Linked DNA regions of Homo sapiens. The protein of the gene in region 2 binds, or shares a complex with, the protein of the main gene of each other region. Each region holds a gene or a part of one and is shown on either strand. Other genes may lie near its edges. The genes, in order: MED4 and CCNC.

Evidence for each region.
Region 1: CCNC (region 2) and MED4 share a complex: the UniProt entries of both Homo sapiens proteins name them as parts of the mediator complex.

The regions. Positions count from the first base shown.
Region 1 is NC_000013.11:48,075,224-48,078,415, forward strand, and holds the end of MED4 (mediator of RNA polymerase II transcription subunit 4), read right to left. Parts: intron 2,331-3,192; exon of another isoform or gene 2,219-2,330; intron 2,129-2,218; exon of another isoform or gene 2,089-2,128; coding exon 1,916-2,088; 3' UTR 501-1,915; downstream 1-500. UniProt on the Homo sapiens protein: Component of the Mediator complex, a coactivator involved in the regulated transcription of nearly all RNA polymerase II-dependent genes.
Region 2 is NC_000006.12:99,551,575-99,558,885, forward strand, and holds part of CCNC (cyclin-C), read right to left. Parts: intron 6,975-7,311; coding exon 6,923-6,974; intron 2,228-6,922; exon of another isoform or gene 322-2,227; coding exon 266-321; exon of another isoform or gene 1-265. UniProt on the Homo sapiens protein: Component of the Mediator complex, a coactivator involved in regulated gene transcription of nearly all RNA polymerase II-dependent genes.

The DNA.
Region 1 (3,192 bases), on a different chromosome or scaffold from region 2:
TTTGTTACATGGCAAGGAAGAATTAAGGTTGCAAACAGAATAAAGGTTGCTAATCATCTCACTTTAAATAAGAAGATTATTCTGGGTTATCCAGTGGGCTCAGAATGATCACAGGATCCTTTAAATATGGGACAGGTAGGCAGAAGAGCATCACAGTAATGCAGAATGAGAAACACTCACCAACCAGGGGCCTGGAGCAGGACCAAGGGCGGCCTCTAAAACCTGGAAGACACAGGGGACAGATTCTCCCCTATGGCCTCCAGGAAGGAATGCAGCCCTGCTCACACCTTGATTTTAGGTGAGACCCACTTCACATTTGTGATGTACAAAACTAAGATAAATTTGTGTTGTTTTGAGCCAAGTTTGTGGTAATTTGTTACGGCAGCAACTGAAAACTAATACAGTATTAAAGAATTTGAAAAACACAATCCTTTTGAATCTACCCTAAAGATTTGGTGATAAAAACAGGCAGTTACATTATGGCACATACCACAATAAAATTTTAGCCATTAAAGTAAATCTTTCAAGAATGTATACACATGGATCAATATTCCTAGTATACGGACAAGGCAAGGTTAAAATTAGATATTGTGTTAGTCCATTCCTAAAAATAACCCTGGAGGGAAAGACATTCAAACATTGTATGTCCTTAATTCTAGATGGTGAAAATATAAGATTAATCTCCTATTTTCCAATTTTTCTAGAGATCGAAAATAATCAAAAGGAAAAAATGATGGAAAAATGGAATTCTCAGTTCATTTGAAGAATACAGATTAGCAATTAAAAAATACAGCAGTATCTCAGGAAATAAACATTATTCTCATTTTACAAAAAAGTGTATGTGAACTTTAAAAAAATCTACACTACAATATGAATTGATATTATCTCTGGGTAGAATGCTAACAATTTTATTTTCTCCTTTACTGTATTCACTAAATGTTTCACATTAAATGTTGTATTACCTTTGAAATCAGAAGATACATTGTCTAAAACTGATACATCAAGAAATAGTTGTATAAGCATATTACCTAAACACAGAGGTTACCAACAGAAATTAAAAGTGGTTAAAAATGACTCCTGGGGAACTGTAAGAAGAGGAAGGTGAAGGGAAGAAATGGTTGCTTTCCATTCTAAATCTTCACACAATCTATTCTTAAAATCAGACAAGGCTGTGGTAAATTTTTTCAATTATTAAAAAAAATTATTTCTTCTAATAGGAATAGGCCTTTGAGAACCCTATTAATTGTAATAGGTTTCAATTCAGTTAGTCACTCAAGTATTATAAAATGCAACTGGATTTACAGAAATAATTTCCTACCTACACTGACAGTATATTTAAACTAAAAAAAAAGCATACAATGTACAAACAAATTTATTTACAAAAATTACAATTACAAACTGTACAAATTGAGACAATTTCCCATGCCTCCAACAGAAGCCAAGAGCCTTTACTGTCAAATGGCAGTTTTTGTTACTTTTAAATGACACACAAAAAGAAATATGATGCCTATTCAGTCATCCACTGCCAGTTTAAAAATGCTTTTCTAAATAATTCCAAGAAGCCTATTAGTGATATGTATATGGATAATTTCCCTCAACTCTATTTCTAGAATGGCTATGTACAAATCCAGCAAAACTGGAACAGAACAGGGTAAGAAAGCACATAGCAACTGCTTTTTCAACAGTAAATTTTGACTATTCCCCTAAATATCTACCTAGTGGCTTAAAACTAAAACTATGGTCTTTGGCTTTAAAAAGAAAGTCAAAAAATTTTGACTTTTAATGACTGCACAATTCTACCAAAGCCAGTGTTTACCTGGGTATTTTTTGTCACCTGTAGTTTACATTTCCCTGCTACTGTTAAAGAAACAGAATTCTACAGTATTCAATTCTGTATATTGTCTTTTAAGGTTTTTCAATCAGACTCACTACTACTGCTTGAGGAGTCCGTTGACATAATCTCTACATCATCTTCATTTTCTTTATTATGCCCAGGAGGTTCCAACAAAAAGTCACTACTATGATTTGGTGGTAACATATTCATCGACATGTCATTTGACTGCCATGGATACTGTGGAGCAAGGACATCTGGAGAAAAAAAGAAGCATAGATAAGAACAGCTCTATCTGTAATTAATCTAGTTCTTACTTTTCCCTTTATGCAACAATTTGAAGTATTTTTTTTAATTTTACTTTTTTCTCTTCTTTTTTTGACACAGGGTCTCATTCTGTCACCCAGGCTTGAGTGCAGTGGCACGAATACATCACTGAAGCCCTGACCTAGGCTCAAGCAATCCTCCTGCCTCAGCCTCCTGAGTAACTGGGTTACAGGTATGTGCCACCATGCTTGAGTACTTTTTAAAGTTTTTGTAGAGATGAGGTCTCACTATGTTAACCAGGCTGGTCTCCAACTCCTGGGCTCAAGCTATCCTGCTACCTCAGCCTCCCAAAGTGTTGGGATTACAGGCATAAGCTATTGTGCCAATTTTTTTAAGACTAGGAAAAAAATACACATTTAGCCAAATTAATAAAAATCAAATTTATCAAGGAAAAGTTGATATTTTAGCAACTGGGGACTTTTTTAAAAAAATCATACTACTCTGTAAGAAACTATTTAGTCAGTTGACATAATTTTTCTTTTGTAAGACATTTGTAATTACAAATTTTTCCTGTATCTATGTATCTATTATATGCATATATAATACATACTTATGTATACTAGGTTATGTAGATTATTCTACATATTATAAACAAGTAATAGGTACTTTAGTATTATAATAGATTTGAATGATTTCTTGATAGAGGAACTGCTATTGTAAGTGACTCTCATCAAAGAGAGGTTGATTAGCAATGTATGCATATGAAATACCTTAAAAAAGGGCCCAAGTTACATTTAAAGTCTGTATTTCTGAAGCAAAGGGACAGAGCACATAAACAGGTATAGTTCAAGACTCAAATAAAGAAGGCAGATTTTTAAAGGGTCAAAAGAAAGAGTTATGGTATTAACTAGAAAGGTATGCCAGTTAGCCTCAAATCTACCCTTCTCTCTGGCCCCTGAAACCATTTCTCCTTTGCCAGCTGCCACAATTAAGTTTTGTCAGTAGAGGGCACAGGTGGGACTCCACTAGCAAACAAGTTTCACTTCCTGGATCAGGTGGTTTTGTCTCCTTTACTGCTGTGATGCCTGGTTGGT
Region 2 (7,311 bases):
TTTTGTTGTTCTGGAAAGGATCCAACATCAGTATTATTTACAAGTTCCCAAGGTGATTTAATGAGCAGCCAGGGTTGATAATCGCCACTATGAAGTATTTTTTTTAAATGGTAAAAGCTATTTAGCTTTAATTTAGAATAATGTCTGTATTTATGTAATATTTGAAACTGCCATTTCTAGGAAACTATTAAATTTAGTCTAATATAAAATAGAGCTAGTTTATATATAGCTTTGATAATTGTTCCATTTTATATCATATACTTACATGATTCATCCTATAAGGAAATTCCTTTGGAAAGGCATATGAAAATCTAGTTTTTACTGCAGAAAATAAAAAAAAAATTTAAACTGAGAAAATGGGAAATAAATTAACTCAAAATTCCTTTAACAGAGCAGAATATTAGAGGGTAGAGCAAAATTATTTTCAGTAGGAATTCTTGGCAACACTTACGGACGCAGATTTTTATTTACTTTCAGGGAAGGGGAAAGACTGGGGGGCAGGACACTCTACACAGCTTCAATTTTATATTTACTACCTTAAGAAAGGATTCTGATGTTTAAAAAAGAAAAAGATCAGGAAAAAAAAATCACTGGCTTTTATCATTTCTAAAATCTTTTCAGCTACAGAATGGTATTCTTCTGTTTTCCAGTGACTGAGCTTAGAAGGAACACAGGGGTTACATATGTGTTTACAATATATACAATTGGTAAAAAATATACATATAAAATATTGGGAGGATAGTACACCAAAAAAATGTTAACAGTGGTTATTTGTGAGATTTAAGAACTTTTTACTAATCTGCACTTTCTAAACTTTTTACAATGACCAGGTATTTATCAAAATATATATTTTAATAAAAGCATTAATATATATGCAAAGGTCTCGAGTTACTCATAAAGTAGTAGTAGTAACACATAAAGTTAGTACTCTATTATCTATTACTTTATTGGTTAGTCACTAAATAAAGTACAAATGAAAAAAAAATGTTAACCATCAATCCCCCATCTCCTTAAAATGGTGTGAGCATATACACATAAGTACTATTTGAGAAACTGTATTCAAGCCATTATGACACATTTAATTCAACCAAGTAACTACTGACAGGTCCTAAAAAATGTTTAGTGTCAGCTTCCATTTGTACAAAGCCCAAGTGATTTCACTGAAATTAAAAGAAATTCCATTTCTGGCCAGGCACAGTGGCTCATGCCTGTAATCCCAGCACTTTGGGAGGCCAAGGTGGGTGGATCACCTGAGGTCAGGAGTTCGAGACCTCCTGGACAACATGGTGAAACCCCATCTCTACTAAAAATACAAAAATTAGGCGAGTGTAGTGGCATGCACCTGTAGTCCCGGCTACTCGGGAGGCCGAGGCAGGAGAATCCCTTGAACCCGGGAGGCAGAGGGTGCAGTGAGCTGAGAACACACCACTGCACTCCAGTCTGGGTGACAGTGAGACTCCATCTCAAAAAAAAAAAAAGAAAGAAATTCCATTTCTTCTATGCACTATGTTTTCAAAAAGATTTGTTTTGCAAATTCAGTGCCCTACAGCTAATTTAGATGTGTAATATCTGCCAGGATTTGAAACCTAGAATAATTTAAACTTGACATTAGTAAATTTATAATCTTTCCTTTCTTCTCTCCTTTATTTAAATTTAAGACGTACCTATTAAGGTTTCTGAGTTTTACAAATCCTTGTGATGTAAAGTATACCAGCACAACAGGTTCTTATATAATGGTAGACAATCAACAAAGTAAAATTATCTCTGTATATAAAACAAATCTACATCCCCATCCCCTGGACCTTGACACCTAACACCTCTATTGAGAATATATTTACCTGATACTGTCACATGTCTGTTACTCCATGCTAAAACTGCTCTGCATTTTTTTCTGTCTTTTAATCCTTTTCCTCCAACTTGGAGAAAAATACATCCCTCCTCTCTATTGTTTGTCTTACCACTTATACACTTATTATCATCTATTCAATTGATAACTCCTGCTATTTTTTTCATCTTTAACCTTCCTCCTTCAGTAAATCTTCCATCACATACTAATATGCTCAAATTTCCCTTGAAAAAAGCAAAACAAACTCTACCTAATTATATTCCTCTGCCTTTTATTTTTGTAGACTCAAACACTGAGATCATGCACAGTTCTCTTATACCCACCGTTATTGACTTCCCAGCCTCCAGAACTGTGAGAAATAAATGTCTGTTGTGAAAGCCACCCAGTCTATGGTACTTTCTTATATTAGCCCAAGTGGACTAAGACATGCCTTCACCCAGCTTCCCCTACTATTAACATCTTACATTAGTATGGCGCATTTGTTACAATTACTGACCCAATATTGAAATGTTATTATTAACTAAACTGTACTTTTTTCAGATCTCCTTAGTTTGTACCAATGTCCTTTTTCTATCCTAGGGTCTTATCTAGGATACCACATTATATTTATTTGTCATGTTTCCTTAGACTGTTTGGCTGTGACAGTTTTCTAGCCTTTCCTTGTTTTTGATGACTTTGACAGTTTTTAGGAGTACCAGTCAAGTATTTTGTCAAATGCCCCTCTACTGGAATTTGTCTGATGTTTTTCTCATTAGACTAGAGAAAATGGGTTTTTGACAGGAAGACCACCGAGATAAAGTACCATCTTCATCATATCACATCAATGATACATGATATTAATGTGATTTATCACTGTTGCTACTGACCTTGATCGCCTGGCTAAGGCAGTATTTCTCAGGTTTCCCCACTGTAAAGTTACCTTTTTCCTCCCTTTCCATATGTACACACTAGCAGGAAGTTAACATGTATAGCCAGCACCTTAGGAGTGGGGAGTTATGCTCCCTCTACTTGAGGGCAGAATAGTTACATATATTATTTGGAATTCTTCAGCATGGAAGACATGTCTCTTCTCCCTCATTTATTTATATCAGTATGGACTCATGGATATTTAGTTTATACTTTGAGTTATTATCCAATGCTATTTTTAAAATTTTGATGCTCAAATTCTTTCAGCTTTGGTCAGTGGGAGCTCTCTTAGTTAGCTCCTATATCCTTTTGACATATCCTCATCAATAGACGTTTTTGTTTTTCTTGTTTGTTTTGAATACTTCTTTATTACTGGCATTAAGAGATGGTCCAGGTCCATCTTGTGTATTTCTTGCCCCAGTCCTAGAATCAACCATTTCTCCAAGGAGCCCTGGTACCTTTTATTGGAGAATGATATTAGAAACCAAGATATGGGTACTAGGTGAGCTCATTGCTACTGGGATGTCATTGCTTATAGACCCTTTCAGCTGAGAAAGCCAAGAAATACACACACTAACCCATGTATATACACTTATCTATAAATATTTCTATATGTAACTAACCATCTATATTGTATTAAGGTACACGAGTTCATGCTGTTTCCAGCCCTTTGCTTATCTGTAAATTCCCGCTCCAACAATGAGAAACCCGGCTCTCAAACATTTGCTATTGATTTACGTAATTGTTTAATTCCCATATACATGTATAGCATTATCAGAATTGTTAACTTGTACACCCATGGGTAATAACTTTATCAACTAGAGTACAGTGCTTATGTGTAGTTCCTTTTGCCTTTACTCTTACACTCTTAATCATTTCCAAAGCTACTTATGTCAACACCTTTCCCCCAATTCCCTTCACTGAAGTTGTTTCATATATTTTTAATATAGTTAGACTATTCCTTTCTCAGCACCTACTTGCTTCTTAATTCCTTGCAATCTGGCTTCTACCTCCACCCCCACATTGTTAATGACACTATGTTCTCTCTCAAAGATGTTTTTTTCTTTGGTTCACATCTTTTTCTATGCAGCATAAGACATTGTGGAACTCTTTTTTTTTTTAATTTTTAGGGACAGAGTCTTACTCCATTGCCCAGGCTGGAGTGCAGTGGCATAATCACAGTTTACTGCAGCCTTGAACTCCTGGGCTTAGGCAACCCTCCCACTTCAGCCTAGTTGAGTAGCTAGGACTACAGGTGTGTGCCACCATGCCCAGTTAGTTTTTCTTTAATTTTTTGCAGAGCTGGAATCTTGCTATGTTGTCCAGGCTGGTCTTGAACTCCTGTTCTAAAGCAATCCTCCTGCTCCAGCCTCCCAAAGTGTTCGGATTATAAGCAGGAACCACCATACCTGGCCTGTGCAACTCTTAAATGTTATCAAATTCCAAATTTCTACTGCTGGCCTCACATTTTTAAGAGGATGTTCTACTAACATATTTATACTTAGAATGTCAAAGATTAAATTTAATTCTTTTCAGAACTCACTTATTCTCTTTTTCAGTACCAGCTTCAGCTCCCCAACCCCCAGGCAAAAAAACCTCAAAACACATTTCTGACTCTTCTTAAATCCCTTCTTTTTATAAGAACTGCTGACTCTATCGCTCAAATCTGGCTTGTTTGTTCTTCTTGCTGGCTGCCAATATTCGTTTAAGCCTTCATTAGTGTTCACTGGGATGACTTCAGCAACTTAAAAATTATTTTTTCCACTTTAAACTTGTTAGGTTTTATTTCTCATAGCACCCTGTGGTAAGTGACAGCACTCAATACAGTTTGCAGTTTTACTGTATTTCAGAAGGTTTTTGTTTTTAAATTGTGTTAAGATATACAAAATTTTTGCAAAACTGAAACTCTGTATCCATTAATCACTCCCTATACCACCCTTCCTCCAGCCCTACCATTCTACTTTCTATCTTTATTAATTTGACTAAGTATTCCATGTAAGTGTAATCACACAATATTTGTCTTTGTTACTGGCTTATTTCACTTACCATAATGTCCTCAAGGTTCATCCATGTTGTGGGATGTAAATAACTTCAAAATTTGTCTAATTCTACCTGCCCTCTCCTCCAATTCATCTTACATAATTCTGTCAGATTTACCTTCCTAATGCACAATGCTAGCATTACCCTCATGTGTGAAAATAAATAAAACTGGCCAGGCACAGTGGCTCACGCCTGTAATCTCAGCACTTTGGGAGGCTGAGGTGGGTCAGATTTACCTTCCTAATGCACAATGCTGGCATTACCCTCATGTGTAAAAATAAATAAAACTGGCCAGGTGCAGTGGCTCACGCCTGTAATCTCAGCACTTTGGGAGGCCTGAGGTGAGGAGTTTAAAACCAGCCTGGCCAAAATGTTGAAACCCCATCTCTACTAAAAATACAAAAATTAGCCCGGCGTGGTGGCACACACCTGTAATCCCAGCTACCAGGGAGGATGAGGCAGGAGAATCGCTTGAACCTGGGAGGCAGAGGTTGCAGTGAGCCAAGATCGTGCCACTGCACTCCAGCCTGGGCGGCTGAGCGAGACTCCATCTCAAATAACTAACTTTCATTACTGTCAATAGAACAAAGTGCAGATTCCTTCATTTAGCATCGAAGGCCCTCTATTAGCTGAAATTAGGTAAGGAGTTTTCCCCACTATTTCCTTACTCACCATTCAGTTAATCTAACTCATGAGCTTTCCCTATTTGACTAAACTATTCAGTGTTCTTAGACTGTCTATCTCTTGCATTTCCCCAGTTCAACTTCCTTCACCAAGTTCTACTTAATCCTTTCTGGATTCATGAAACAATCTTTTCCCACCCAAAACATTCACAGCATTCTCTGTAACTCTCTTATACTATTTATTTCCTTCTGTATTAATATTTTTATGTTTCTGTCTTCTTTTTTTGTCCTTAAATTCCTTGTATTTTACCTTGGTACCAATGCCACTGCATTGGCACAGTGTTTTCCAGTGATAATGATGTTGTTGTCATTGAAGATGATGATGATGATGATAGCCCCTAAAGTTTACCAAGTATTGTGGACCAATATATGTCCCCCTCCAAAATTCGTATGTTGAAGCCCTAACTCCTAGTACCTCAGAATGTGACTGTATTTGGAGAGAGGGTCTTTAAAGGGATAAGATTAAATGAGGACAGGCCAGACATGGTGGCTCACACCTATAATCCCAGCACGTTGGGAGGCCGAGGCTAGCGGATCACGAGATCAGGAGTTTGAGACTAGTCTGGCCAACATGGTGAAACCCCGTCTCTACTAAAAAATACAAAAATGAGCTGGGCATGGTGGCACATGCCTGTAGTCCCAGGTACTCAGGAGGCTGAGGCAGGAGAATCACTTGAACCCAGGAGGCGGAAGTTGAAGTGAGCACTCCAGCCTGGGCGACAGAGCGAGACTCTGTCTCAAAAAAAAAAAAAAAAAAAAGAAAGAAAAAAAAAAGATTAAATGAGGACATAAGAGTGGGGCCTAATTCTGTAAGACTATTGTCCTCACATGAAGAAGACAGCAAACCAGGAGTGTGTGTGCTCACAGAAAGGTCCATGTAAGAATAGCCAGACACCTTGATCTTGGATTTCCATGCTCTAAAACTGTGAGAAAATACGCTTCTGTTGTTTAAGCCACCTGTTCTGTGGCATTTTGTTATGGCAGCCTCAGCAAAGTAACATACTAAGCAAGGCACTGTTCTAAAAGCTTATATTAACTCATTTGGTCCTCATAACAACCCAACAACACAGGAACGGGTTTGCACATAGATATTAATATCTACCCATAAGAATGACATAATAGTCATTAGAAAACAATAAAATACAATAAAATTCGGAAACAGAATTTTTTCTTTACTCTTACAAGATTAAAAGCCACTGAGTTGATGTTTTTGGATTGATAATTACTATCCATTTTAACATTAAAAGTAATATCTTTATATCTTTTTAAAAAAAAACCTTTTAGCTTGATTTTTTTGCCAGATACACTAGATATAAAGTTATCCTCAGGAAATTTAATAAAGCCAACCAATCTCATATGTCTCATAAACTAAAAAAAAAAAAATCTATGTACTCTGGAGCTTTCTTTAGAATTACATCCTTAAAGCAGATATACTTTTTGCACTTACATACAGAAGTAGCAGCAGCAATCAATCTTGTATTTGAAACTACTCCAAATTCCTAAAGAAAGAAAAGCAGGTACATGTTAACCCAATGAATCTAAGGGTATCTGAACTCTATTCAAAACAGGATTTCCTTGCTCCTGTTTACAATCTGTTCACCTTCTAACTACTTGAGGTGTGAAGTACTTACACTCCTAAATGTACAGGCTGATTACCCCTTATCTGACATGCTTAGGATCAGAGATTTTTCTGATTTAGGAATATTTTGCATTACACTGGTTGAGCATCCCTAATCTAAAAATCTGAAATGCAAAATGTTCCAATGAGCATTCCTTTGAATGTCATGTTGGCCCTCAAAACGTTTCAAATTTTGGAGCATTTAGGATTTTCAGATT